Linked DNA regions of Homo sapiens. The protein of the gene in region 2 purifies or fractionates together with the protein of the main gene of each other region. This does not show direct contact. Each region holds a gene or a part of one and is shown on either strand. Other genes may lie near its edges.

The links.
Region 1: the proteins of TMOD3 (region 2) and PBX2 purify together in Homo sapiens (affinity purification with mass spectrometry; 2 studies listed by BioGRID and IntAct, with this or other methods). This does not show direct contact.
Region 3: the proteins of TMOD3 (region 2) and MYO5C purify together in Homo sapiens (affinity purification with mass spectrometry; 3 studies listed by BioGRID and IntAct, with this or other methods). This does not show direct contact.
Region 4: the proteins of TMOD3 (region 2) and LRRFIP2 purify together in Homo sapiens (affinity purification with mass spectrometry; 2 studies listed by BioGRID and IntAct, with this or other methods). This does not show direct contact.

The regions. Positions count from the first base shown.
Region 1 is NC_000006.12:32,187,190-32,195,078, forward strand, and holds the start of PBX2 (pre-B-cell leukemia transcription factor 2), read right to left. Parts: upstream 3,014-7,889; 5' UTR 2,727-3,013; coding exon 2,506-2,726; intron 1,608-2,505; coding exon 1,534-1,607; intron 1,316-1,533; coding exon 1,068-1,315; intron 968-1,067; coding exon 777-967; intron 594-776; coding exon 458-593; intron 207-457; coding exon 53-206; intron 1-52. Other genes in the region: GPSM3 (G-protein-signaling modulator 3), read right to left, coding at 4,177-4,314, 4,520-4,719, 4,959-5,061, 5,283-5,324. UniProt on the Homo sapiens protein: Transcriptional activator that binds the sequence 5'-ATCAATCAA-3'. Activates transcription of PF4 in complex with MEIS1.
Region 2 is NC_000015.10:51,832,636-51,839,658, reverse strand, and holds part of TMOD3 (tropomodulin-3), read right to left. Parts: intron 1-7,023. UniProt on the Homo sapiens protein: Blocks the elongation and depolymerization of the actin filaments at the pointed end. The Tmod/TM complex contributes to the formation of the short actin protofilament, which in turn defines the geometry of the membrane skeleton.
Region 3 is NC_000015.10:52,285,792-52,292,814, forward strand, and holds part of MYO5C (unconventional myosin-Vc), read right to left. Parts: intron 1-7,023. UniProt on the Homo sapiens protein: May be involved in transferrin trafficking. Likely to power actin-based membrane trafficking in many physiologically crucial tissues.
Region 4 is NC_000003.12:37,052,572-37,059,594, forward strand, and holds the end of LRRFIP2 (leucine-rich repeat flightless-interacting protein 2), read right to left. Parts: intron 6,340-7,023; coding exon 6,219-6,339; intron 2,595-6,218; coding exon 2,515-2,594; intron 1,945-2,514; coding exon 1,840-1,944; intron 1,391-1,839; coding exon 1,280-1,390; 3' UTR 55-1,279; downstream 1-54. UniProt on the Homo sapiens protein: May function as activator of the canonical Wnt signaling pathway, in association with DVL3, upstream of CTNNB1/beta-catenin.

The DNA.
Region 1 (7,889 bases), on a different chromosome or scaffold from region 2:
ACAAAAGCAGGAAGTGTGCAAAACAGTCAGCCGGGGTGACAGTGGGATCCACCTGCAGAGGAAGGGGGTGTCGGGGAGCTGGTGCGGCTGTGGCCCCCCTGGGTGACTGACACGGCGGTCTTGACAGCATAGATGTTTGCCTCCTCTTGGAACTTTCCGATGTTTTTCTTATAGCGAATCCTCTTGTTGCCAAACCAGTTGGAGACCTGTGGGGCAGAAAGGAGGGTCAGGTAGAAACATTTGCCTCTGAAGTCCTTCACTGAATAAGATGTGAGTGACAGCATTTTTTTTTTTTTTGCTTCCTGGTCTCACTATGCTGTTGCCCAGGCTGGTCTCCAATTCAAGTGATCCTCCCACTTCAGCCTCCCTAGTAGCTGGGATTACAGGAACACACCACTGCACCTAGCTGAGATGCGTGCACTTTGCCTGACAACTCCTCCCGCAACCTCCATAATACCTGAGACACGGTGATGCCACACTTCTTGGCAAGCTCCTCCTTGGCCTCCTCACTAGGATATGGGTTACTCAGGTGGGAGTAGAAATACTCATTTAGGACCTCAGTGGCCTGTTTGCTGAAGTTACGGCGCTTTCGTCTACAGAGGAGGGAGAAGAGCAGTGAGGAGGATGTTGATGTCCTGGCAGGGCTGTCACATGGCATGACCCCAGAGTCACCATTGTCATGGAGTACCATGTTGTGCAGCATGGCAGCTCAGGGTCTTGGAGAGGAATGGGAAGGAGCCCAGTGCTGGGGGCCAGCCTGGGGTCCCTGGGCCCACCTGGCATCCAGGAAACGGGAGCGCAGGATCATCACAGCCTCGCAGGTGCTCTGCTTCAGCTGCATCTGGATGGCGCTGAACTTTCGATGGATGATGCTCACCATGCGTTCCATCTCTTTGGGGGCCACGGGCCTGGTGCGGCTCTGCTCCCTCAGCAGGTTCATGACATGGGTCGTGAACTCATTACATGCCTGTAGTGGGGGCCAGTGGGCTGGTGAGGAGGAGCCCTTTGACCATGGGATTCCCCTGCAAGAGCCCTTCCCTCCACCCACCCAAGCCTCCTCTCCTTACCTGCTCATACTTCTCCAGCTCCGAGTGGTATATGTGACGGATCTGGGCAAGTTTGCTGCGATAGTCCGAGTGTTCGATGGAGTTGTCAGGGGACACACCACCACCAGAGGCTGCAGCGGCTGCAGCTGCTGCTGCTGAGCCGCCCCCTTTCTCGGGCCCAGCCACACCCTCTGCCAGAAGCATGTTGTCCAAGCGCATCAGCTGTGGGTCCACCGGCTCCTCCTCCTGGGAGCTCCGAATGCTGAGGCCTAGCATGCAGGCGAGTGGACTTAGGGACCCAGAGACCCCAATACCCAGTGCTCAGTCCTCCTGGTGCTTCCTGGAGAGCCAAGTTCCCAGGCTTTGGTTCCTTCCCCAGTCCCCCTGACTCCTTACTTTCCTCAGGGCCCCAAGTTGTCACACTCTAGCCCTATAATGAACAGGGTTCTGTTCCCAGAGTTGAGCAATCCGGGGGGGGCCCACATACCAGTTTTCTCCTTGATTTCACACAGGACGCTAAAGAGAGCAGGCTTCATTCGGTGGCAGTTTAGGGCGTGTTTCCTTGGGAGGAGTGGGAGTGGGGAAAGAGAAAAGTTGAGGAGCTAGAGAAACAGAGCAGGGGGCCTGAGAACAAGGAGGGAGGAGGGTCAGTCTGCGGAGGGAGGAAGCGGATTGGGGGTGGAATGAGTTGGGGGTGGAATGAGGAGTTCTTGGGAAAAGATCAGCTCCCAGAGCATGGGGAAGCTCCTCAGCTTCAGGGAGACACAGGGAAGATGCAGGCAGCAGGTTAAAGGCTGCGGGCTTTGGGAGATGGTCTAGAAAGGTAGGAGGAGGAATCTGGGAGTGGATGGAGAAAGGAAAGTGACTTGGTAGGTTTCAGAGGGAGAGAGACAGAGGCTGGGGTTGAGAAGAGTCAGAGTTTGAGGTGGCAGAGTGGGGCTGGGGGTGCCGAGCTAACTGGGGAGATCAGTGTAGGGTGTGTGAAGGGGTCCTGGGGCTGAGCAGGTGGGAGGCTTTGATGCACCTAGTGTCTGGCTGAGCAGTGGAGAGGAGCTTTAGGGGCTCTGGAGAGGGTGTGGAGGTCTCCACATCTGGAGAGAATGAGGGGGCTGGGTGGAGAGTTAGGGGAGAAGATAACGTAGCCCAAGAACAGTTTCTTAGTCTGGGAGCCAGAGGGGGCTCCCGGGGATGGGGCTGTTCCAGGAGACTGCAGGGGTCGGCAAAAGGTTAGGAGTGGGGAGCCGGGCCACCGGGGGTTCCCTCTGTGAAGGTTTCAGGGCCTGGGGGTGAAGGGAGGTTTGAGAGGGATCACTTTTCTATGGGCTCCCAGGAATAAGGAGAGAAGAGAGCTGTTGGATCCTGGAGAGGGCCCTGGAGTTGGGGGGGGCTCCCAGAAGATTCAGAACATGTGAACGGGGTTTGCTGGGTCTGTGTGGGGTCCCGGAGTGGGGGCACTCACTTGGCCTGGGCCTCGTCCAGGCTCTGGTCGGTGATGGTCATTATCTGCTGCAGAATGTCCCCGATGTCTTGCTTCCCTCGGCCTCCCGGGACCCCCCCGCTACCCCCACCGGGGTCTCCGCCACCGGGAGGCTCGCCAGGGCCCCCAGGCTCCCCACTCACCAATCCCAGGCCCCCCCGGCCCCCGCCTGGAGGGGGCGGCCCCAGTAGCCGTTCGTCCATAGCTGGGGGGGGGCCCTGAGGCCCCCTCCCTGCTCCGCCCCTCCCCCCGCCTGGTTACTTCTCCCCCCAAACTCGCTGGGGCCGCTGCTCCCTCCGCCCCAACCCCCGCCCGTCTGCCCCCGGCTCCCGGCTCCCCCGGGGGTTCACCCCGGCACTGAAGGGAGACCTGGGATACCGGCTGGGCCCCCCACAGGAGACCCCGGCCCCCGGCGGCGGAGAAAATGGAGCCGGAGAGAGAGAGGAGGCCCAAGCGGGGGTGTGTGTGAGAGAGAGGGAGGAGGGAGGAGGGAGAAGGGGGGGGAGCGAGGGAGGGAGGCTGGGGGAGGGGAGCCGGAGAGGAAGAGGAGGGGAGAAGAGAGGAGGAACAGGGAGGAGCTGGGGGCGGAGAGAGAGACACAGAAACAGAGGAACTGAGACCTAGTGGAGGAGGGGAGAGGGAAGAGGGGATGAGGGGAGGAGACGGGCCATCTGAAAGATATGGGAAAGCCCCCTGGCTGGACTTCCGCGGCCTAGGAGTGGGGCTGTGTTGGCGGCTGGGGGCGTCTGTCACCTGGGTCCTGAATCAGGGATCTAAGCGATGTGGACTCAGGCCGCTGGAATGCCTGGGTTCACCGGCAGCTCAGTTCATATTTCTTGTTCTAATGACTCCCCTCCCTGTTCTACTTAATTAAAACCGAAGAGGGGGGCTGGGGGAGATAATTAGGGAGGTCTCCAGCCGCTGCTTAATGAGCCAGTAATTAACCAGCCGGGGAGGGGAGCTGGCCTCTGGCCAGACTGGGGAGAGAAAAGGCCTCTGGCCTCACCTTCCTACCTTTCACCCCGCCTGGGCCCCCCAGATACCAGTCTGCAGTCCAGAGGGGAATTATATTTATTCACACAACCAAAACATCAGACAGACTCAGCAGCAGTGGGGAGGGAGGGTGGGCAGGGCTGAAGGTCCATTCACAGCCCGTAAACCCCTCAGTCTCAGGGATCGGGGGTGCTGGTAGTGGGACTGGGAGAATAGTCTTAATCTCTCAGGTGCCCACCCACCTTCCCTTCTTACTGGGAGGAAGGGTAGAGCTGTCTCTCAGGTTATAACCTCTCAGGTGGAGGCCTGAGCCCTCAGACCCTACTGCCTAGTAGCTTGACAACTGGTGGTGTCCCCACAAGTTAGGGAAAAGACTCCCAGCCACTCCTTGAGATGGGTGCCTGGGATCCCCCTTACTGCCTCAAGCTCCCATGGACCTGTGGGCGGGGAGTTAAATCCCTGTTCCATCTCGCCTGTTCCCAGAGTTTGAGGACTTTCACCCTGTCCAGTTCCCAGGGAAGGTGATGTGGGAGATGAATATTGAGATTTGTGCCGTGTCTTTCAGTCTCTGGTACCCCTGCCAAGCAAGAGTTGAGGGCATGCAATGGGCTGCCCAGCTTTGAGACCAGTGGCAAGGAAGGGCTGGTTGGGGCTCAAGTCTCAGCAGGTGTGTGTGGGGGGCCGGGACCTTTGCTCCTCCATTCGACCCCCACCCTGAACTCTCAGCAGCAACTCCAGGAGCTCTTGCCCCCCTGGAGGGAGGGGAGGCTCTGACCGCTGGGCTTCCATCCGCTGGCACTGGAGGAGTGGAGGGAGAGGGAGAGCTTTGGTGAGGGTCTGAGAGGAGGAGGTTCTTGAGAGGATCAAGGGTTGGTATGGGGAGGCATATAGGAAACCTGTGAAGGCGATGGGGTGCCTAGGGAGAAACAGGAGTAGAGCCCCAAAGAGAACAGGGGCCAAGAGACCAGGAGGCCTGGGTTTGCCTCCTGGGGGGATGTCTTACCTGGTGACTGAGGATAGTGCTGTAAAGCTGTTCTCTGTCCTCGAGAGGACGGAGTGGGGCAGGGGCTAGGCTTGAGGGGTTTTGGGGGGTGTAGAAGGTGGCCCTCTGCTCCTCCAGGCGGCGGGACTGGGCTTCAGCCACCAGGTCCAGAAGGAGTTCAGTCTGCAGGGAGAGCAGGGAGGCCGAGCGGGGTCCCAGGGCTGGGGAGAGGGGTGTGGAGGGCTCAGAGACCCAGAGAGGTTGGCAGACAGGAGCCGTGGGGGAGTGTGGACAGGGTGACGTGATTAGGGACTTTGGATCAGAGGAGAGGGGGTGCAATGGGGAATCCCAAGGGGAGTCTGGAGGAGGTGGGGAGAGGGCCCACAATGGAGTGGGCCTTGGTAATGGGGTCAGGATGTGGGCACTAGGGTCGGGGCTCTCCCTGGGTGGGTAGGGGTACCTGTGTGGCGGGTCCCTGGAGGAGGAGGGGATGGAGGAGCAGATCGCCAAGGCCGAGTGGTGGAGTTTGGAGGGGGCCAGCCTTCCTCATCCTGAGGGGGGCCCTGATGCCAAAATATGTCCATTCTAGTCAAGCAGTGGTGGTTGAAGCGGGAGGAGTGGACAGGGGGCTAGGCCAGTGGCCCGTTTCCTCTCTGTGTGTCTCTGTTCCTGCCTCAGTTTGCCCAAGCCTTTCAAGGCCCCTGTGTCCCTACATTTCTGCCCCAGGTCCTCTCACCTCCCTTCTTTCCCAGTGTCAGCCTCCCCAACCCCGTGCCCAGCTCACCTGCTCACCATCCTCTTCTTCCTGGGGTCTCTCAGCCTCCATCCCCTAGAGGGGAGAAACTGGTGGGGGAGGGGTGGCTGGGATTTGGGAGGAGGGCTGGAACCTTGGGTTCCTGAGGGGAGTGGGGGCTGGAAGGGGTGGGGGTGAGCTGGGGGCTGGATGCCTGGGTACTGAGCAGGAAGCTGGGTTCCTGGTCAGCCCCCCCACGGGCCCCGCCCATCCCTGTCAACTTCCTCCATTCTCTTCCCACCCAAACAGCTTGTTCAGTCTCTCTCGCCCCAGGGCAGCACTGAGACTGGGAAAAACTCCTCCAGCTGCAGGAGTGGAGGGGGCTCATGGTGGGGAAGGACTCCTGGCGGTCTCATCTCCAGAGCCTCAGTAGTCCCCTAATCCCTGGCTCTGCTCCCTCCACCCCACCTCCTCTTCTGCTCTTTCTGTCAACACAGGAACTAGCTACACAGGAAGTGGTTTCACTCCTCAGAATCCCCCTCCCCCCAGCCAGGTCCCTTCCCTCCCTAAGATAGACCCTGGTGTAGGATTTGGCCCTCCCGATCTTCCCTCTTACTTACCGGGACTGGGAGGGGCATGGTTCCAGTGGGAAGTGGAGGATTCAGATCCAGGGATGTGGAGCTCTCAAATATATACATAAAACCCTAGCACCGGGTCCAACACATAGTAAGTATTCAATATATATGTATTGAATAATCATCCCTGACCTCTAGGTATTTAAAATCTATTCAGGAGATGGCCGGCTGCGGTGGCTCACACCTGTAATCCTAGCACTTCGGGAGGCTGAGGCGGGTGGATTGCCTGAGCTCAGGAGTTGGAGACCAGCCTGGGGAACATGGTGAAACCCCATCTTTACTAAAATACAAAAAATTAGCTGGGCGTGGCCACATGCGCCTGTAATCCCAGCTACTCAGGAGGTTGAGGCAGGAGAATTGCTTGAACCCGGGAGGCGGAGGTTGCGGTGAACTGAGATTGTGCCACTGCGCTCCAGCCTAGGTGACAGAGCGAGACTCCGTCTCCAAAATAAAATAAAATAAAAAATACACTCTATTCAGGAGACAAGATGTGTACCAAATAGAGTACGGGAAGGGTTCATTTTGGAAACTTATAGTTTAGTGCAGACAAGGGGCAGGGGAAATTTTATTTTGGGCATAAGAGATATAGATATGGAACAATGAGAGGCTGAGGTAGGAAGATTGCTTGAGCCCAGGAGGTTGTGGCTGCAGTGAGCCATTTGTGCCACTGCACTCCAGGCTGGGCAACAGAGCAATACCCTGTTTCAGAAAAAGAAAGAAATGAAATGAAATTGAAAAGGGAGAGGACTACCTCTCTGGCTTGGTCTTTGATCAATGCTAATCAGGCTGGTTGGCATCAAGGAAGGAGCAGGGCAGACAACCATTTGGTACCTCTAAATGGCAACCTGTCATGTTAGGGAGTTTATAGCTGAGTGATTTGGAATGTGAAATGTGATGAAGAGATCTGGTCCTGCCGCTTATTCCTTGCAATCTTGGGCAGATCTCTGTGCCTCAATTTCTGAGTGAAATAGGGTTTTAATAGCACCTACTTCATAGGGTTGATGTATTAATAATGTAATGAAGCACTTGATGCATAGTGAATACTTAATAAACTGTAGATATTATTGGCTTTCAAAATGCCTCATGACTCCATGTTTCAAACCTAGCAACATATTGCTGCAAGGTGGACAAAGTTTCAAGATACTCTCTCCATCTACTTGACTTGTGGCCTTAGGAATCTCCTAAGTGGCCATAAGTAAAAGCCCTAGGATGAGGGACAAAGTGTGTGCATCATCTAGTGCAGTGGTCTCCTACCTTTTTGGCACCAGGGAAGAGTTTCGTGGAAGACAATTATTCCATGGTCGGTGGCGACGGAGGGCTGGTTTCAGGATGAAACTGTTCCACCCCAGATCATTAGGCATTAGATTCCCGTAAGAAGCGAGAAACTTAGATCCCTTGCATGCACAGTTCACAATAGGGTTCGAGTTCCTATGAGAATTTAATGCTTATGCTGATCTGACAGGAGGTGGAGCTTGGGCAGTAATGCTTGCTCACCTCCTGCTGTGTGGCCCAGTTCCTAAGAGGCCATGGACCAGTACCAGTCTGTGGCCCAAGGGTTGGGGACCCCTGACCTAGTGTGTGCGGTTTCTCCCTTGGCTACTAGATTCTTGCTTTCAGATAATACCCTAAATTATCATAGGGCCCCTAAATATACTTATTCTTGCTTTTAAACTATACTTACATCCTCCATCCAATCCAAATGCTGAGCCAAAAGCACAAAATGCTGACATTATGCAGTCACTCCCATCTTTTTTCCCATTCTTCTCCCCAATTCCTCCAAAAAAAGGTAACACTTCAAATCAGCTTTATTATGGGTGACAGATTTAGGGTTCTTAAATAGCGATAGCAGTGGCTAGAAGAAGCGCTTCATCCCCACAGTGGAGTTCTTTGTTGTGAGGGGAGGGAATGCAAGGAGTCATCAGCGGGGGTGGCCCTTGGCCACTTTTCAGCACCTACACAGTGCCTGGCACATAGTAGGTGCCCAATAAATATTTGTCAGCCATTTGTGGGCAGTGGGGACAAT
Region 2 (7,023 bases):
AGGAGGATTGTTTGAGCTCAGGAGTTCAAGGCTGCAGTGAGCTATGATCACACCTGCACGCCAGCCTGGATGACAGCGAAAGCCTGTCTCGAAAAAAAAAATTGCTCTGAATTGACTATTATACCTAAAAGTTAATCCTAATGGTCAAATGGCAAGTCATAGGAATAAATAGACACCAAATAAGAGAAGACTGAGTGTGGTGGCTCACCTCTGTAATCCCAGCAATTTGGGAGGCCAAGGCAGGAGGACTGCTTGAGCCCAGGAGTTTGAGACTAGCCTGGGTAACATAAAGAGACCCCATCTCTATAAAAATTACAAAAAATTAGCCAGGCATGGTGGCACGTGCCTTTAGTTCCAGCTACTTGGGCAGCTAAGGTGGGAGGATTGCTTGAGCCTGGGAGGCGGAGGTTGCAGGGACCTATGATCACACCTGCACTCCAGCCTAGGCAACAGAGTGAGACCCAGTCTCAAACAAAATGGAAAAAAAAAAAAAGAGAGATACACCTATTTCTTAGCTGTCAATCTGCCAGATGCAGGGAACATACCAAAAAAGAGAAGGCATGGTCACTTCCTTCTGACATCAAAATAAGCATGTTTTGAGATGAACAACCCCAAACCTCCTTGTGTGGGGGGACCCACCCCTTATTCCAGTCCCTGTGAAATATACAGCCAAAGAAACAACATAACAAAGCCACATCTTTCACAGCTGTTTGGTACAGGGGTCACCACTCTCAATCTAACCAGGACGGATCAAATTCAATTCTTCTCCAGAAATCTGGAAAGCTGGGAGACAAAACTCAAGTTGAGACATAAGGTATCACCAAGTCTGGAGGCACTACCATAACAAGCTAGTCACCTTGAAGCTGAAGCTAAGGGGAAAGCACAGAAGGTCAGTCTGCAGGGAAGAGAATGAAGCAGGGCTGGGGCTACAGGGAAAAAGTAAAGGAGGCACCTGCCTCAGGGTGTCTCAGTATTTAATAGGGTGCAAAAAAGCTCAGCAATCAAGATAAATTACACAGTAATGCATACTATTTTTTAAAAATTAAAATTAATGTCCTAAAATGGAGCAGAGGCACAGAAAGAAGCCAAAGAGAGCCCTACAAGCAGAGAGAGGACAGAGACTTTCAAAGTGTCTGCTCTGGGTACCAGTGGTAGGTCATTTCACGGACCTCAGCAGCCTTACAATAGTAATGCAGTACAACTCCCAGCTCTGCCACCATACCATCTAGCAAGATAGCTTAAGTGGGTTTGTGTTCCCGGAGACCTAAACACCTTGACTAACATACTCTATTTGGGAAAATGAGACATGCACATAAAGTGCTTTTTGTTTTTTTCAAGAAAATATATAATTAACTGCCAAAAGAATGGTACTGGCTATTAGTGTACAGAAATTCAGAGATCACTGTGGGTGGTCAGGGAGGGACAGAATTAGCTACACAGAGAGGAGTGGAGAAGTATATACTAAACAAAGAGATCAAAGCACAGGCTGAAAAAGGTTGGAGCTGGGAGGGAATCCAGGGCAAGAAGAAGAAAAGTAAAGGGAAAGGAGCGATCTTCACACACCCTGTGTTACACAGAAGTAAGTACGCCTCCATGCTCTTCCGCCTGCAGCCCTTACATCACACGGTTCATTACACAGGAAATGTCCTTTTGCACTCTTTCTCATGTTCAAATCCTTTCACATCTTTCAGGGACCAGTTCAAGTAACATTTCTGCAGAGGCTCCCCTTGTGTGCTATACCAGATTCAGGCAGTGGGAGAAGAAAAGAGGAAACAGTTTCTTCTGAGGTAGGAGGGAAGGCTAAGGGGCTTAAAGCAGTGCCAGCTATTCTCTGGTGGAGGGCACACTATATCACTTGGAATGCTGGCCAATGTCTAAGGAAAGCAGGAAGTGAGATGACTTGACAAGGAATAATAATGGGGGTTCAAGAAAAGTGGCAGAGGAAAGGCAAGCACAGAGGGTGTGCTGAGGACTAACAGAAGAGCCCACCTGCCCCGAAGGCCTTGCAGAGGTGAAATCCTACACATCTGCCTTGGTCCATTTCTGTGTAGGGTTCTGTAATTTTTCACCAAGAAACTGTAAATCTTAGGGACAACAGGAGAAAAACAAAAGTGGGGTGGGCATGACTTTGAAATCATCACATATTTATTGCTATTTCCAGTGAAATTAGACCCCCAACTCCTCAGCTGGTCTAGCACTCAAGTGGGCACATTAAAGAGGAAAAAAAAAAAAAAGAATAGTTCCCTAAGAGTATTAACCTGGGTTAATTATAGCCCACCATGAATGAAAATAAATCTTGGGGGTTGTATCATATCTTGTCACGTTTGCCTCAGGGTAAGGGCTGCCTGAATATAAGCCAGACTCATATACATTTGAGGGGCTTCTTCTGAATATTCCTTAACTCCTCATCAAAGTTTTACCACCACACCCAGGGAATGAAAATATTTTGTTGGCTGTAATTTTCCACATGGATGGAAATCCCCTACTGTATAAGTATCACTAATAATATCCTGCTCAAAAGAATTGCTATGCTATGGTTAAGGAAATACAACAATCTTCTTACCTACAAGTCTATATATATATATATCAAACCCAGCCCTCATTTTCTTCTAGTTTACCATGTTTTTATTCACTTTCTCACAGACACTTCAGGAACTGTGTTCACTTGTATGTACTTATCATGATGTTCATGCTTAGTTATGCCCAGATATGAAACTGTTTATTTGTAGGGGGTTATCATCACTGTATATGTTACCTTAGTTTGTAAGTTTGTCTTAGTGTGTTTGTGTTCCTTCCTTAGTGAGTGGGTGCAGGTGTTGAACATATATACCCGAGGCAGTGGATATCTTTATAGCTCAAAAAGGGTGCACATCTCAGGAGGAACCTTGACTGTATTTCAGTATTTTTCTTTTTTCTTTTTTCTTTTTTTTTTTTTGAGACGGAGCATCACTCTGTCACCAGGCTGGAGTGCAGTGACATGATCTCGGCTCACTGCAACCTCCACCTCCCAGGTTCAAGCGATTCTCCTGCCTCAGCCTCCCGGGTAGCTGGGACTACAGGTGTGTGCCAACATGCCTGGCTAATTTTTGTATTTTTAGTAGAGACGGGGTTTCACCATGTTGGCCAGGATGGTCTCGATCTCCTGACCTCGTGATCCACCCGCCTCAGCCTCCCAAGGTGCTGGGATTATAGGCGTGAAAACGAATTCTTAAGAGTAGTATAAGGGTGAAAGAAGCCAGGCACAAAATATGACATATTATATGATTCCATTTATATGAGATGTCCAGAAGAGGCAAATCTTAAGAGAGAGTAGATTAGTGGTTGCCTAGGGCTGGGTGGGGGAGACCAGGGGGGAATTGGGAGGAATTAGGTAGTAACTGCTAATGGTAAGGGGTTTATTTCTGGTGTGATGAAAATGTTCTAAAATGGTGGTGATGGTTCTACAGTTCTGAATGTAGCAAAATCCACTGAACTGTACACTTTAAATGGGTGAATTGTATGGTGTGCGAATTATATCTCACTAAAGCTGTTATATGTTAGAGAAAGGGGGAAGGAATGAATAAGGAAACCAAAGTTGTCCTGCATTTCCACAGAAAGGTAATCCTGTCTTTGAAAATCTTAGCTTTTTTCTGCTTCTATTTTAGTTAAGCTTTAGGATTCAAGACTCCTCACTGGTAAGTCCCCAGTTGTCTTTTCTCCATCTCTAATCTTTGTCTTTACTAACAAGGGTGATCTACCTAAGGGAGACAGCATTCACTAGTTACAACTCAATCTCTGAACAAAAAACAATATGCACACTATGATTACAATCATATAAAAATACGTATGAGAATGAATCAGGCCTGGAAAGAAATGAGGAAAAGTAAAAATAGCTACATAAGAATAATGAGGTTGGGGTGACATTCTTTTTAAAACTTAGTGTATTATCAGCAAATAAACTTAGAAGAAAAAAATAACCAAACTGTCTCCCTAAAAATTGTTCCAAGGCAAATTCAGAAATTGCATCACAAAGGATTGGAATAGACAATGGAGTAGAAACATGGAAACTAAGGCTGGGTGTGGTGGCTCACGCCTGTAATCCCAGCACTTTGGGATGCCAAGGTGAGCAGTTTGCTTGAGCTCAGGAGTTCAAGGACAGCCTGGGAAACATGATGAAACTCCATCTCTACTAAACATACAAAAATTAGCCAGTTATGGTGGTGCATGCCTGTAGTCCCAGCTATTAATACTTGAGAGGCTGAGGCTGACGGACTGCTTGAGCCCAGGAGGTCGAGGCTGCAGTGAGCCAAGATCACACTACTGCACTCCAAACTGGGTGACAAATTGAGACCTTGTCTCAAAACAAAACAAAACAGAAAAAGATGGAAACTAAAACACATGGCTTATATATAATTGCATCTATTTAGATCAAGCCAATAAACAAGAAATATTAAGCTCCCTATAGCTTGCTATGTTGGAGTCCTAGGTGATCTTTCCTTGCTTACATCTCCTTCATTCTAAACATCTGCCTATTTTATAAGGAAGATGCAATTGCTTCTAAAATGAGGTTGTCTCCATTAACTCGACCCACAGAAAAGCCATTTAAAATTCAAATTCATACTTAACATTCTTCCATCAGGAAATACATGGTAACTAGCCCTGGATCAATCTCAGTCAAGTCCCAATCTGGAAGAGGAGCATAAACATTTAATTTTTAAGGTCAGGGTCCGTGCTTAAGAAACTGACAATATAAGCACAACTAAAATGCAAAGTAGCTCAGCTGACACGCTAAGATGCCAAGTCAATCTAATGGAGAAAAACAAACAAAAAAGAGATGTGTTCTGTTTTGTCTTGAGACAGGGTCTTACTCTGGCCCTCAGGCTGGAGTGCAGTGGCATGATAACAACTCACTGTAGCCTCCACCTCCCTCAGATGATCCTCCTGCCTCAGCCCCCCAAGTAGCTGGGATTATAGGTGCATGCCAGTACTTCCGGCTAATTTTTGTATTTTTAGTAGAAATGTGGTTTTGTCATGTTGCCCAGACTGGTCTCAAACTCCTGGGCTCAAATGATCTGCCTGCCTTGGTCTCCCAAAGCGCTGGGATTACAGGTGTGAGCCACTGTGCCTGGCCGAGAAAGGGAAGTTTTTCTTAAACCTATGTTGCTGGAACAACTAGATATCTATATAGGTGGAAAATGAACCCAAACTCCTATCTTATATCATAACACAATAATAATTACTTTGAGATCAATCACAGACTCAAATGAAAAACTTAGAAAAATAAAGTTTCTAGAAGAAAAAGCTTTCTTTGCAATCCTGGGCACTGGTAAAAATTTATTGGTCAGGACAAAAAACACTAGCCATAATACAAAAAATTGATAAAACAGACTTTATAAAAATTAAAAATTTCTGCTCATCACAATATCATTGAGAAAGTAGACAAGGGACAGACTGTATAAAAAAAAACTGTCAACACATCTATCTCTATATGTGACAAAGAACTTGTACCTTGAATATATAAAGAGCTCCTACAAACAATAAAAAGATGAATGACCCAATGAAAGACTAGGTAAGACTTGAACAAACAATTCACAAAAAAAGATACTGCATAGCCAATTAACATATGATAAAGCACTCAACATTCTTAATCATCAGAAAAATGTAAATTAAAACCATAATGAGGTACAACCATACATCCTGTAGTGTGACTAAAATTGAAAAGGCTGACAATACTAAACATTGGCAACACTAAAAATACGGAGCAAGTAGAACTCAGTATAAACCACTTTGGAGAACTGTTTGGCAGATTTTTAATAAAGTTAAACATACACATACCCTATGACTCAGTAACTCTGCTCCTAGGTATTTATCAAGAAACTTGTAAAAGTATGTTCATAACAATCTTATTCCAAATATCCATCAAGGAGAAAATATAAATTGGGGTACATTCATACAATGGAATACTATTCAACAACTTAAAAGGACAAACCACTGATACTTGCCAACAACATAGATGAATCTTTCTTACATGAAAGAAGCCAAACACAAAAAAAGCACATGCTGTATGATTCCATTTATGTGAAGTCCAAGACCAGTCAAAAAATCTCTGTAGTGTCAGAAATCTATGGAGTCAGGAAGTGATTGCCTTTGGAGGAAGGTGGGTGAGGGAACTTTCTAGGGTGACTTAAAAAAAATGTTTTCTATCTGATTTTGGTAGAAGTTACAGTGTATACAATTGTCAGAACTCCTTGAACTGGATATTATGTGCATTTTATTGAATGTTAATTATACATCAATAAAAATACAAAGTAGCAATGTGCTTCAAGATACAGACTAACAATTTTGTTTCAAATGAAATTCAAGACTACACAAATGCATCTTCAGTTACACAGCATTTTCAATCATGTGCCATTCTGATTTATTCACACTTCTATTCTTTGATCATTGTAAATAAGCTAATGGATTACAGACACATATAGATAACAGAATGTATGTTCACATACATAATTTTTTATAAACACCAAATTAAATTTGATTGTTTACAATTTAAATAAGCACTTAATGGACCAGTTATAGGCCCAGTAGAATATTCTATTGTCTATACCATTTTTCTCTCCATATATTTGTGATTTTAAAGGATCTGACATAAAACTGCATGTAAATCAAATGTCAGCAAGGACTATCAATGACCAAGGGATGATAGCGCTTTAGCCACACGGCCTAGAGAATAATGCCCTCCTCATCTACTCTAATCGAGAGAGCTCATGCATATTAAAGAGCAACTGAAAAGTGTGAAGAGTAGTTTGCCAGCTACAACACAGCCTAAATATCAGTATACATCAGACTGACACCAGAAAACCTTACTAAAAGCCTTTTTTTCCTCTACTGTTTACTGGATCCTCCTCTTTATCTTTCTCCCTCCCTCTATCCAGGTATACTTTTATCCGCAAAGCCTCTCATCCTCCCTGTGATATTGCTCAGATATAATTGATTTTCTCTTTTGTTTTAGTTTTTGAGACAGGGTCTTGCTATGTTGCCCAGGCT
Region 3 (7,023 bases), 450 kb from region 2:
GTGCAGTGGCGTGATCTCGGCTCGCTACAACCTCCACCTCCCAGCCGCCTGCCTTGGCCTCCCAAAGTGCCGAGATTGCAGCCTCTGCCCGGCCGCCACCCCATCTGGGAAGTGAGGAGCATCTCTGTCTGGCCGCCATCCCATCTAGGAAGTGAGGAGCGCCTCTTCCCGGCCGCCATCCCATCTGGGAAGTAAGGAGCGTCTCTGCCCAGCCGCCCATCGTCTGAGATGTGGGGAGCGCCTCTGCCCTGCCGCCCCGTCTGGGATGTGAGGAGCGTCTCTGCCCGGCCGCCCCGTCTGAGAAGTGAGGAGCCCCTCCGCCCGGCAGCCGCACCCTCTGAGAAGTGAGGAGTCCCTCCGCCCGGCAGCCACCCCGTCTGGGAGGAGAAGAGTGTCTCCGCCCGGCAGCCGCCCCGTCCGGGAGGGAGGTGGGGGGTCAGCCCCCGCCAGGCCAGCCGCCTCGTCTGGGAGGGAGGTGGGGGTCAGCCCCCCGCCCGGCCAGCCGCCCCGTCCGGGAGGGAGGTGGGGGGGGTCAGCCCCCCGCCCGGCCAGCCGCCCCGTCCGGGAGGTGAGGGGCGCCTCTGCCCGGCCGCCCCTACTGGGAAGTGAGGAGCCCCTCTGCCCGGCCACCACCCCGTCTGGGAGGTGTGCCCAACAGCTCATTGAGAACGGGCCATGATGACAATGGCAGTTTTGTGGAATAGAAAGGGGGGAAAGGTGGGGAAAAGATTGAGAAATCGGATGGTTGCCGTGTCTGTGTAGAAAGAGGTAGACATGGGAGACTTTTCATTTTGTGCTGTACTAAGAAAAATTCTTCTTCCTTGGGATCCTGTTGATCTGTGACCTTGCCCCCAACCCTGTGCTCTCTGAAACATGTGCTGTGTCCACTCAGGGTTAAATGGATTAAGGGCGGTGCAAGATGTGCTTTGTTAAACAAATGCTTGAAGGCAGCATGCTCGTTGAGAGTCATCACCACTCCCTAATCTCAAGTACCCAGGGACACAAACACTGAGGAAGGCCGCAGGGTCCTCTGCCTAGGAAAACCAGAGACCTCTGTTCACTTGTTTATCTGCTGACCTTCCCTCCACTATTGTCCTGTGACCCTGCCAAATCCCCCTCTGCGAGAAACACCCAAGAATGATCAATAAAAAAAAAAAAGAAAAAAGAAAAAAAAAAAAGAAAAACTAACAAACAAACAAACAAACAAACAAAGTTCACAGTTACAAGTACTAGACTAGGACAATGCTGGATGAGGAACCTATCTATTAGTTAATATAAATCGCCTTACTTAATCAATAAAACAGAAAAGTCACTGGATGGATATCAATCATGACTACCCCTAAATCATTTGAGTTGCTTTAATCCTTAACAGCTAGCAAAAAGCAGAAGCTTGCCGAAACGTGACATGGATGTGTAAGTTTTGAGAGAACGAGAATGGAAGAATGACCTGGCAGGCAGTGACACACACTCTTGTGCAGATAGGACGATGGAGGCCTCATAAAGAAACACACAGACACGCCTGTCTCAGGCACACACACCCACACCCATCCTTGTTGCCACGGGCTACACAGCTCCTACCCCAGGTCTGCTATTGAAAATATTTATTACTAACGTCATGAAGCTTACTTCATTAAAATGGATTAGGAATGGGATCCTCATAAGAGACACCTGAGAGTTGGATGTATTTTCTACAATATGTACCTATTACTTTCATAATCAGAACAATGAATGTTAATCTTTAAAGGCAAATATCAAAATATATGCCCCCCAAAAGAATTGTACATGAATTACCAAATTTATCAAGAATTGGCCACTACAGAGTCTCAGAACTGATTATCTACTCCAAGTTGTTTGTCAAACTCCTTTTTAGAGCTGCAGAAAGCCTACTTCAAAAGGAAGTTCTGGCCAGGCGCGGTGGCTCACGTGTGTAATCCCAGCACTTTGGGAGGCCGAGGTGGGTGGATCACCTGAGATTGGGAGATTGAGAATAGCCTGACCAACATGGAGAAACCCCGTCTCTACTAAAAATACAAAAGTAGCTGGGCGTGGTGGCGCATGCCTCTAACCCCAGCTACTTGGGAGGCTGAGGCAGGAGAATCGCTTGAACCCGAGAGGCGGAGGTTTCTGTGAGGCAAGATCTTGCCATTGCACTGCAGCCTGGGTGACATGCGTGAAACTCCGTCTCAAAAAAAAAAAAAAATTAAGTTGTAACAGCTGGCTAAGCGAAGCTGGTGAAAGTGGAGGTGTTCTGATGGGAGCTGGAGCTGAGAGCCCTGGGGGCCTTCCAAGGAAGCCTGGGCTCTGAGAAGTAATGTGAAAGTCACTAGGCCAATCAATCCTTTTGTTTAACAGAGCCCCTAACTGAAGCCCAGAGAGAAATAACTCACCAAACAGCAGACAGAGTCTCAAAGGACCAGGACTCCAGCAGAGCTAGGGCCTGTGACTCCTAGTTTGAACTCCGTATTAGTTAAGCGAATCTGGCCCTGAAAGTAATCCTGAACTCTGAACTGCAACCATCTACTTGAGAGTCCATGTGCTCTCCTAACTATAATTTAGGATTGGTTTCAGCTAAAAGTGGTATTAAATGGCAGGCAGTATTAGGACATACGTAACCACTGACGGCTTCTCTTCTGAAGACCAGTGACTCCTCAGCCCAGTACCCCAGGCCGCCCACACCCTGCGATCCTGGTGCTTCTGCTGGCATTGAGTGCCCTGCAGCTGAAACCCAGCCTGGTAAGTAAACAACGGTGAGTTTACTCAGCTCCGGGTAAGTTCCACCCATTCATTCCTGTCCCCTCCTCCCTCACATTCCTCTACCCACAAAGCAATGCTTCAAACTGGAGGAAGAGTTAACTTTACAGCATTCATCCAAACAGATGCAGTCCGCAGTTCATGCAAACAATGTAACCAGCTGTCAACTGACCTCCAGAATATGGGGCCTTCCCATGAGGCAGGAGTCTGTGGACTGGGATGGAACAGCTCGCCAAGCCCTTCAGCGGAGCCAGGAAAGAGAGGGCCACCTCCCAACTTCCCTGAGTGCCCTCCCCATGCCAAGGCGCCAAGCTGAGGCAGAGGCTCGGGACCACTGAACCTTATGAGCTCAAGACCATGCCAGCCACCCCCCCAAGGCACACAGGTGAGATGAGAACAGCATCTTCTCACGCCGCCTGCTTTTCTGAGGGATCTTCTGGCATGAGCCACAGAAATGACTTGAAGACTTATATGGAAGATGGGACAAGATGGGACGACATGTGTTTCCCTCCTAGAACCGCTTTCTGGACTGGGAGTGTCCACACTCCAGGTCAGCCAGGCCAGATTGTCACACCATGCCCCTCTCTTCCTCCTCCTCTTCATTCGCTCCTCATGGGCCCCTCCCCTGGCTCCCCTGCCCCTCCCACTGCCCCCCATGTCCGTGTCTCCCAAGGTCCTTCCCAGCCTCTTCTCATGATAGGCTGTTTCTGGAGAGTTCCACCCAATTCCACAGCTTCTGCAACTGCCTGGCACCTGTGCATCTGAGACCTCCCACCCAGATCGTGCACTGGAGCTCTACACCACATTTCCAATTGCCTCCAAGATGTCAGCCCCTAAATGTCCTCATAGACTCATAAATTCCAAACTCCAGTGATGCCGACGCTCCTCCTTCCTAGCTCTCTTGCCCCTCATGTCAGAAGCCTGGGACAGTGCTGGGCACCCCTCTGTGTCTCCACCCCAACAGCCCAACAGTCACCAGGTGCTAGAAAAGACTGCCTTTTAAAAGCCCTCTCCTGTCCGCCCCTGCCTACCAGCCCCCTTGCCATGGCCATAAGTCAGCCCCCAACCCTACCCCCACCAATCCTCTCTTGACTGGTGCAGCAGCCCCCGGAGGCTTCCTCAGCCAGGCTGAGCACGAGGTTTCTTTGGGCAGACAGACTCTCTCATCCGTACTTGATTGGAATTCCTGTGGGTGGGGCCCGGCAAGAGAAAAGCTTTGAAAATCAACCCCCACATGGGTTTTGAGGAAGAGCCAGGCCTGGGCAACCAGCATTCTGGCCAATTTCCTGCTCAGGCCTCACCCTCTTTTCAATCCACCCTCTGCCTGTGGCCACCCAAAACCACTAGCACTTTCTGGAACATGGCAGGCCTTCTTTGGCTTTCTGCTGTGTACTTCTGTTCCTTCCACCCTAGCCCCACCCATCCTCTCCCCATCCAAGAGCAAACAGCTCTGAACAGTCTGGAGTAGCTGGAGACACTCCTCATCTTGGCACTCTCCTTGCCACTTGCCATCTAGCAGAGCTGGATGCTTCCCTTGAGCGCTCTCTGCTCCTCCCCCAGGTATCTAGGCTGCCTCCCATCTCCCCCACTGGCATTTGAACTTTAAGAGCCTGGTCTTTGTGCTTGGAATCCAATGCAAAGGCTTCCCATAACTAGCACTCCATAAACAACTTTTGAACAAAAATTCAAATTCCCAGTGGTTCAGTTGCACCAATTAAAGACTAAGTATTTCAGTCTTTTCATCCCTTTTTTTCTCTTTGAACTACCCATACATAATACAATGGATACATTTAATTTTCCAGAGTTGTTAATGGTATATAGAAGTCTAAAAACTATTTAGAATTAGCCAAATTAAAAAAAAAATCGTTACGCTGAACTTTGACCTCATTTTAGACAGGGGCCCTGGACTGCTAGTCAAGACACTTCTTTTGACCTTGCACATCTGAGTTTCAGCAGAACTTTGAAGATATTTGTGAGTTCCTCTTGCACAAGTGAAAGAAACAGATGGTGGAATGACTGTAGTGAACCTGTCACTACACAGTCATAACCTGAGTTCTAATTAATGAGCAAGAGCAACCTTTAGGAAAAAAAAAAAAAAAAGGTCTCCAGAGGCATGCCACAGAGCTCTACCGCCTCCCCTTTCATTCAACACTTTCACCAGTATCGTAGATGAAAAAACAAAACACATGTATCAAACAAGCAGATGAAATGATTGATTAGCTAAAGATGATCAAGATTCAAAAGGTTTTTACAAGCTACAGAAACGCTGGGCACTAAACAAAACAGAAAATTTTATAGGGATAAATGTAAAGTCTGTATTTAGGTAAAAAAAATCAACTGTATTATAATAGCATCAGTATTTGAGTAATCTTTATTAAGCATTATGTGTCAGGTGCTGTGCTAAGGATTTTACACGCCATTAATCCTCATAGTGACCTCCTCAGCTGGTAAGCATGATTCAGTCCATTATACTGGTGTGGAAACTCAGGTTAAGTAACTTGCCTGGTGTCACCCAGTTAGTAAGGGGCAGGACCAGGACTTGATTTGACCCACCAGGGGCAGAGCATGTACCAGCTCTGCTTAAAGCACTAACATAATGCCAGGATACACTGAGGGATGCTCACAAGAAGTTGCACCGTACTCATGGCTGAGCAGATCAAGGCTAGAGAATAGTGCCACTAAAATGGGCATCAAGGTGTGAAAATTCACCCAGAGGAAGGTGGCCTGGATGCTGAGGGTCTGGAATGATGCTGTCAGAGAAATGGTTGGTGGCACTGTCACTCTCCTCAAGCCGTCTGTCCTACCCACCCTTCCTGCTCAGCAGCTGTCAAGCTCTCTGGGCTTTCTTCCTTCTCTGTCAGTATCTCTGTGCCTTCAACTCCTGCCACTGTGGCCTCAGGCCCTCACTCCTTTCTGAGGTTAACCCATGCCTGGTGCCTTTCTTATGTCTTCAAACTGCAGTCCTCTGCTGGTTTCCTCCCTTTCACGGGTCATGTCAGACTTTCCCTTTCCCCTTCACAGTTCTACCCAAACAGAAACGACGCCAGGGACCAAAACTAGCGGCCAAACCTAACAACCCATCCCCAGCCTTCATCCTTGTTGACTTCTCTGCAGCTACTAGAAAGAAAGACCGTCCAATCTTTAGGCAGTGATATGTGTGGTCTTTTTTCTTTGTTTGCATATTTTATGTTTTTTTTTTTTTTTTTTTTTTTTTGAGACAGGGTCTCGCTCTGTCGCCCAGGCTGGAGTGCAGCGGCGCGATCTCGGCTCACTGCAAGCTTCGCCTCCCGGGTTCACGCCATTCTCCTGCCTCAGCCTCCTGAGTAGCTGGGACTACAGGCGCCTGCCACCACGCCTGGCTAATTTTTTTGTATTTTTAGTAGAGACGGGGTTTCACCGTGTTAGCCAGGATGGTCTCGACCTCCTGACCTCGTGATCCGCCCGCCTCGGCCTCCCAAAGTGCTGGGATTACAGGCGTGAGCCACCGCACCCGGCCGCATATTTTATATTTATCTTCATACAGTATATAAACTGTTGTGCCCCATTTTTCACATAACCATGTTTTCATGTTATGAACTCTTCAGAAATAGTACTTTTAATGGCTTCATGCTGTTTTACCATGTGAATCTTCCATAATTTACTTAACTTTACCCCTCTTGCTGGACACTGGGATTGGTTCCAATTTAGTTATTATAAGGAAAAATACAAATAAGCAGGTGTCAGGAGAGGTAGGTAGAAAGTGGATGAACTTCTCACAAGCCCACTGTGTGCGGGGAAAAGGTCAGATCCCTTGAAGAAGAGGAAGATAATAAAGGCGGTTGAACCAAGGTGGTGGTAGTGAGAGACACTAAGAACATAGGTTTTCAACTCCGGCTCCATCACTTGTATGTTACCTTAGCAACTTACCTGACCTGAGCCATTTCTAAAAGTGTGAGATCATCTAACACACAGAGTTGTTTATCCAGATTAAATGAGAGGCGGCACATGAAACTCTGAGGATGGCATCTAGCACATAGAGATAAAAATAACATCATCCATATCATCGTCTCCATGGTCCTAGCTATTTCTGTAAGCAAAAACGTTCAGTCATGCACACAGGTGCACATCAAACATTTATGAAGCTCCCACTGTCCCCTGCTCACTGAAAGCTCTTGGTCAATAGTGGAGACACAGAGTTCACGAGCTGTTACCAGGCAATATGGAAGGCACCGTGTGGAGGGGCTAGCTGCAGAGGCTTTCTCAGAAGAGGTCCTGCTCAAATTGAAGGTGGAA
Region 4 (7,023 bases), on a different chromosome or scaffold from region 2:
CATCTCAATTCAGAAGATTGGTATCCATATTTTTTAAATGAAGGGCTAATTAAAAAAGGAACAAATATTAGAGATTTTATTCACTTTTGAGTTACCTTTTTAAAGTCTAGTTTTATTATCTTATGTGCCTTTAGTCACTAGATTTTCCCCCAATATATTTTCTGTGTAAGCACTTTAAAGATACAATAATCATTTCTATAAAACCACCTGGGTACTAAGAGCAAAAGAGAATCATAAATTCTGCAAAGTAGTTGCACTCCATGATTTTAAAAAAACCTCTTGGACAGGGTACCTCTAAAGGTGAAACTCAAGTCTTTAAAAGTTCTACATTCCAGATTGTTTTTCCTTGAGAAGGAGACAAAAGAAGAGGGATGTGGTTGCCATGATTTGTTTTAAAGTCTCCTATAACAAAATGAACATGTCAGTAGCCAATTGTGGTTGGCAAAAGGGTGTATTTAATAGAATCTGCAGGCAGATTTCCAATCTGCCTGCCCTGCCCTACCCTCCCCCTTTGGGTTTGTTTGAGGTTTCATTCCACAAATAAGCAGCAGATAAAATACTTTACAAGGTACAGCACAGTTGTATTGAAGAAAAAAAGGACCCAACTCTTACTTTAGGAGTATTAGGCCTGGACTTCCCCTGCCCCATGCAATAAAGCAAGTTTTATATACACTCCCCATATTTTTTTCTAACATTTTCTTATATAAATTTAAATATTTTACAAAAAAAGGCTTTTTTCCTCCAAACATATAAATCTGAGTGAAACATAGATTCCCCACCCGAGAACTTGTTTCTTCACTAAAATATAAATGTTGTCTGATATTAAGGGTAAATGTCTTTTGACCACTGGAGATCACTGAAGTCTGAATTGCACCGTGGAGAAGGCACTTGTGTTTTCTGAGGTCTCCAGCAAGTATCTCAGTGAGCACTCATAGAATTGCTGTCTGTCCTCCAGAACCCGTGCCAAGGCCTCCGAGTGCCCAGTTACTGAGGCAGCTGGGGAAAAACGTTGAGTAAACATGATTCTACAATTACGGAGATAAAAAATAAAAACAGCATGGACTGGTTCTACCCTAGAATCAAACTACAACAAAATCCAAAGTGTTCATTCATGTAGATTCAAAATGACTTCATTCTGTCATAAATTATAAAATACAAAGGTGGCTGTTTTAATGACAAAACTCAAAACAGTACTAAAAGGGGTTTGTGTCAATGGACAAAAGTCAGTCCCTCTAGGTAGGGCCCCAAGGAGCATCACCCAGGTTGAAGGGTGGTTTTCCTACTGCTGGGCCAGAAGTGCTGTCCTATTGGCCTTCATCTTCTCCAGCCGCTTGGCCAGGTGGCTGTTGGTCATCTCCATCTCCTCAATCTTGTCCAGTGCTGTTCGTAACTGGAGACAGGGAGAATGCAGTCACTACATGTGGTCAGAAACAACATCCAGTGCTACTCTATTTTCAACTTCCTGGGAAATGAAAGCACTGCTAACTGTGATGGCCTTGCACAGGACCCACAACCTCATTTTTTCTATCAGTTAGAGGTGTTAAATGATGATACTGAGGATTGTTTATTTGTTTTAATCACAGAAAGGATATATAGAAGTTGGAGAAATAGACCTGATCTGAAGCAAAAATACAAACTATCTTTTTACTTAGTATCTAATTGACCAAAACATAAAAGTAAATGGCAGTCACTATGCAGGTCAAAAACCAACACAAATTAGTTAAGTGACTCCACTGCTGTTTCCTTAAGTATCAAATTTCTTACACAGCTAAGAATTATTTCCAGAAGATTTTTTCTTTTTAGGAATGTATTCTCCAAGAAACATATTAAAAGAAGTACCTCTCGTTGTAGCTTCCGTTTTTCTGCTTTCAATTCATCTTCAACTTTCTCAGCATTCTCAGCAGCAGTTTTATATCTCAGAACCTGTCCCTCAAGCCGGCTAATCTGTAAGTATGAGAACATAGGCCTCTAGTACTGGGCACTAGAAGTCACCACTTTTTGGTAGCCAGGATGGAAATACAATGTCATTATAAATGCCAAGTAATCTACTAACAAGTCCCCTAAGGGTGACTCATAAGTCCTCTCAGAACTCAGTTGCTATTTATAAATCAAGTAATGTCCCCAGAGAGGATTACAGCTGTAGAGTCATTTTAGGGCCAATTTCCCATGCTAAGTTTTATTATGACCATATTGTTTAAGTGCCAAAGCAATATAGGAAGAGACACTAAATGGAAAAGTTCTTACACTTTTTGGAATGCGTAAGGGATTTTATTACAAATGATGATCTTGAATTCTCCTGAAATATCTACAAAAACTGATAGCTATAGTTTCCTATGGTTTTAGAGAAAACAGAAGGCTAAAATGTCCCAACAAGTGCTCTCTGCTGGCTTTTCTATTTTAATACAGAACTATTATTGATCCAACTGCAAAGGCAACCCAGGCACTCATGGGTTGTTAGCCACTTAGATGCAGGAAGGACATTTAAATAACTTAGTACCATATAGAAGTACTTACACTTTGCTCCAAGGTAGTTATATCCTGTTCTGCTTTTGAAAGCTTAAATTTGTATTCGCTAATTTGTCTATTGGCATCTCCTAGAACAGAAGAAGACAATGAATTATCTTCACCTGTCAGAGATGACAGTATGAGCCATCAGGCAGTACCTCTGTGGCACAGAGAGGACCATGCAGTCTTAAGATTACAAAATACAGGGCTGGGCGCGGTGACTCACGCCTGTAATCCCAGCATTTTGGGAGGCCGAGGTGGGTGGATCATGAGGTCAAGAGATAGAGGCGACCATCCTGGCCAACATGGTGAAACCCTGTCTCTACTAAAAATATAAAAATTAGCTGGGCGTGGTGGCACAGGCCTGTAGTCCCAGCTACTCGGGAAGCTGAGGCAGGAGAATCACTTGAACCCGGGAGGCAGAGGTTGCAGTGAGCTAAGATCGCGCCACTGCACTCCAGCCTGGCAACAGAGCGATACTCCGTCCCCCTGCCAAAAAAAAATTACAAAATACAAATGCACACACAACAACCACAGCATCTTCAGCAGCCCAGGTTCTGGACTGTATATACTACAAGATGCTCTAGCATATATGTTACTACAGTATCCCTTGCAGCAAGAGTTAGAAGAAAATTCTTTACCCTATGATATGTGTGAGCAGGGCTTGAGAAAGGAGCCCTGCCAATTCAGCAGCAGCCCCTACCAACCCTGTGTGTAACCTTGTGGAGCCTCCCTGCCCACGGGACTGGGCCCTCTAGTTCCCTGAACGCGGCCCCATGCCTTCCCATCTCCCAGGTTTTGCTTCTGCTGTCCAATACTGTAAGGGTCCTTTTCTCCCACCTCTGACTTGCTTCAAGGCCAAGCTCAATTTTCACCTCTTTCATGACTCCCCTTAATTATAAGTCCTTCCCTTGCTGTATTTTATTTGCATTTTTATGACATTTGTCATGCTTTTTAAACATCGTATGTGTAAGCAAGAAGAGGGGCCCTGTCTTGGCCTTCCTAAATCTACCTATGTACCTAGCCAAGTGCACACAGTGTATGCCTAAATAAATATATGTTGGAATAAATGCTGTTCAGTAATGTGATAATGTGTTATGGGTAGAGCTATAAGTTACTAGATGAACATCTGACCTAGGAAGTAAATCACTTAAAATGAAAAGTTTAGAAATGATGGCAGGGGACTTTTAAAATCCCTCCAAGAATCCAAGTTTAGCAAAAATCAGTCTCTGGCATGATTACAGTAATAAGATTTGCAAAAGATAAACCAAATCTAACATACCACAGGAAATATTCAGATTATCTAACTTAAGAACTTTTCTACATTTCCACATGACCAAGGTTACAATTACTTATACAGTCTTCAATGTGAGAGGTTTTTCTTTTTTTTTTTTTGAGATGGAGTCTCGCTCTGTCGCCCAGGCTAGAGTGCAGTGGCGCGATCTCGGCTCACTGCAAGCTCCATCACCCAGGTTCACGCCATTCTCCTGCCTCAGCCTCCTGAGTAGCTGGGACTACAGGCACCCGCCACCATGCCTGGCTAAATTTTTGTATTTTTAGTAGAGACGGGGTTTCACCATGTTAGCCAGGATGGTCTCGATCTCCTGACCTCGTGATCCACCCACCTCAGCCTCCTAAAGTGGTGAGAGGTTTTTCTAATTGGACAATTACTGTCACCTTAAAAGGAACAGGGTTACCATCTCCCCAAAAGCCATATCTGGTAGTGAAAGAGAAGTATTCCTATTTCTGAGCCCTAAAACAAGCTTCAGGATCTGATTTTTAAATTGTTATCCTCAGCAATCTATTGATTATCCAAATGTACTTCTTCCTTCTCACTCTCCAAACCACCTTTCCCTTCCTGTTTTCAAAAGTTTAAGTCTCTTATCTCAGTAACTTCATGTGTGTTTTGAAATCCCATTCCAAAACACTCTCATAATAGGCAAGGCACCATCCAGAACCAAGAGTTGCTCCACTCCTGGCCTTCTGGTCCAGGGAAGCTGCTTGCTTTTGTCTTTGCCAGCTTTCCCACAGTCCTGCAAAGCTCACTTTGTTCTACACCTCCTGCCTGGGTACTTTACCTTCTGCAAATACCAGCTATACAACAACCTACCTACTCTAGGAAGTATTCACACATAAATGCCAGCCCATTCCCCCTAAATCTGTTTCCTTTTAAATTTGCTGCTTAAGGACAATCTCTCAGATCTATTCCCTACCCTCTCTCTAAGACTGCTGACAGCTACTGAACTGGTTCAGGCTCACCACTGTAGTAGCTTCCTAACTAGTCAGCCTGCCTTTTCCCATGTCCCTGTTCTCATCTACCGCCAACACCAAAATGACATTCTTGAACAAAATATTCACCAGGAAATGTCACAAGTGTCCTAACTGATGTCCAACAGAAAAGATAATACCAATATCAAAAGTTAGTATTAATAAGCCTTAACCCAAAAAGTCTTTTCTCTTTTTTTTTTTTTTGAAGAGACGGGTTTTCACCACATTGCCCAGGCTGGTCTCAAACTTCTGAGCTCAAGCAATCCACCACCTCAGCCTCTCCAAATGCTGGGATTATGGGTGCGGGCCACCACGCCTGGCCCCAACATGTCTTTTCTTGGCAGCCTATCTCAGAAGGTTTAGATGAAAAGTCCATGGAATAAACAAGATTTTAATATTAGTTATCAGAAAAGTCACTATTCTTATTGGAAAAATGAAAATCTCCTCTGTCCGAGAATTACACATAATCACTAACAAAGGCTAACTACAAATTCCTGCTGAAATCTTCCTACTATGGGAATTAGTGTGACTGCAGTGATCATTTTATTATGAGGTCAGAAGTAGAAAAATGAGAAAAACTGGAATAATTCGGGTAAAATGAATAGAATAGACTTTATTTTGTGGACTTATTTTAAATTTCATCTAATAAAGATAAACTTGGATTAACAAAATACTTCTAGGAAAATTCTGAAACTACTCAATTTAGTGTGAAGTAGTTCCAAATAGATTCGTCCAATTATCCAAGACAAATTCCAGAGAAAAAACTTTAATGGGGAAGGGTGCTTGCTGTATGGGAGCTTAAAGATGACAAATGGATGTGGAAAAGGACAGTGCCAGGTTGTCAAAAGGCATTTCACTGTGTGCAAAAAGTTCCTAGAAATCACTTTATCCAGAAAGGGTAAGAGCAATAAACCTCATTATCCCCTGAAGCACACAGGCTAGTGGAGCCTCTATTCAGCTATATTGCTGACTAGGACTGTTTTTCTGGACTAGCCAAGGACTAACCAATTTTTGCAGCATAGCTCTTCTTAAGAAAAGCATATTAACGGCCAGGCGCGGTGGCTCACGCCTGTAATCCCAGCACTCTGGGAGGCTGAGGTGGGCAGATCACCTGAGGCCAGGAGTTCGAGACCAGCCTGGTAACTATGGTGAAACTCTGTCTCTGCTAAAAACATAAAAAACTAGCCGGGCATGGTGGCAGGCGCCTATAATCCCAGCTACTCAGGAGGCTGAGGCAGGAGAATTACTTGAACCCAGGAGGCAGAGGCTGCAGTGAACGGAGATTGCACCACTGCACTCTGACCTGGGTGACAGAGTGAGACTCCCATCTCAAAAAAAAAAAAAAAAGAAAAGTGTATTACAAGATACCAGCAACCTGCTGACAAACCCACCCCTGGGACACAGTCTATATACAGACTGGGACTGGCCTGTCCCCTGGTACCTACTCTGCATTTCGATGAACTGCAAGTCTGAGCCATTCTGCAGTCCTGCCAGGTCACCCACTGTGCCATCATTCCTGGAGCATTTCTGTCGTTCCTCCTCTAACTGAAGCTTCAGTTTTCTAATCTGAAATGAAAATAAAGGTTCATCAGCAAGATCCAATCTCTCAAATGAAGCCGATGCTTATTCTATGGTCACATCATAGAACAAAGCAGACCCTTATCGTATCAGCCACATTCATTCAAAACCTATTTTCTTGAGTGCCTAATAGGAGACACACATCGTCCTAGGTGCTAAAGATAAGCTACGAACAAACATCGAAAAGAGCAAGCCCCAGGACCAGGTGTCCCAGTAGAAAATAGCCATATTTTAAATTTGTGTCTGCTTATGGAACAGTACATCTTTGGGGTATTTTTTGTTACTTTTATTTAAAATGGAAAATTCTAGCCAGGCATAGTGGCATGTACCTATGTATCAGGCTACTTGGGAGGCTGAGGCATGAGGATCACATGAGCCCAGGAGTTTGAGACCGACCTGGGCAACACAGTGAGACCTCATCTCTAAAAAAAATAAAACAAAAATATAAACAGTTAACTGATAGGGTATATTCAAGAGATTATTTCTTAAAATGGAAGATTCCATGAGCAGTTTTTTGTTGTTTACTTTTAGACATAGGTTAAATTTTCTTACTTAGAAAACATCCTGTATGTAAAAATAATTGGGGCTGGGCACGGTGGCTCACGCCTGTAATCCCAGCACTTTGGGAAGCTGAGGCGGGCGGATCACAAGGTCAAGAGATCGAGGCCATCC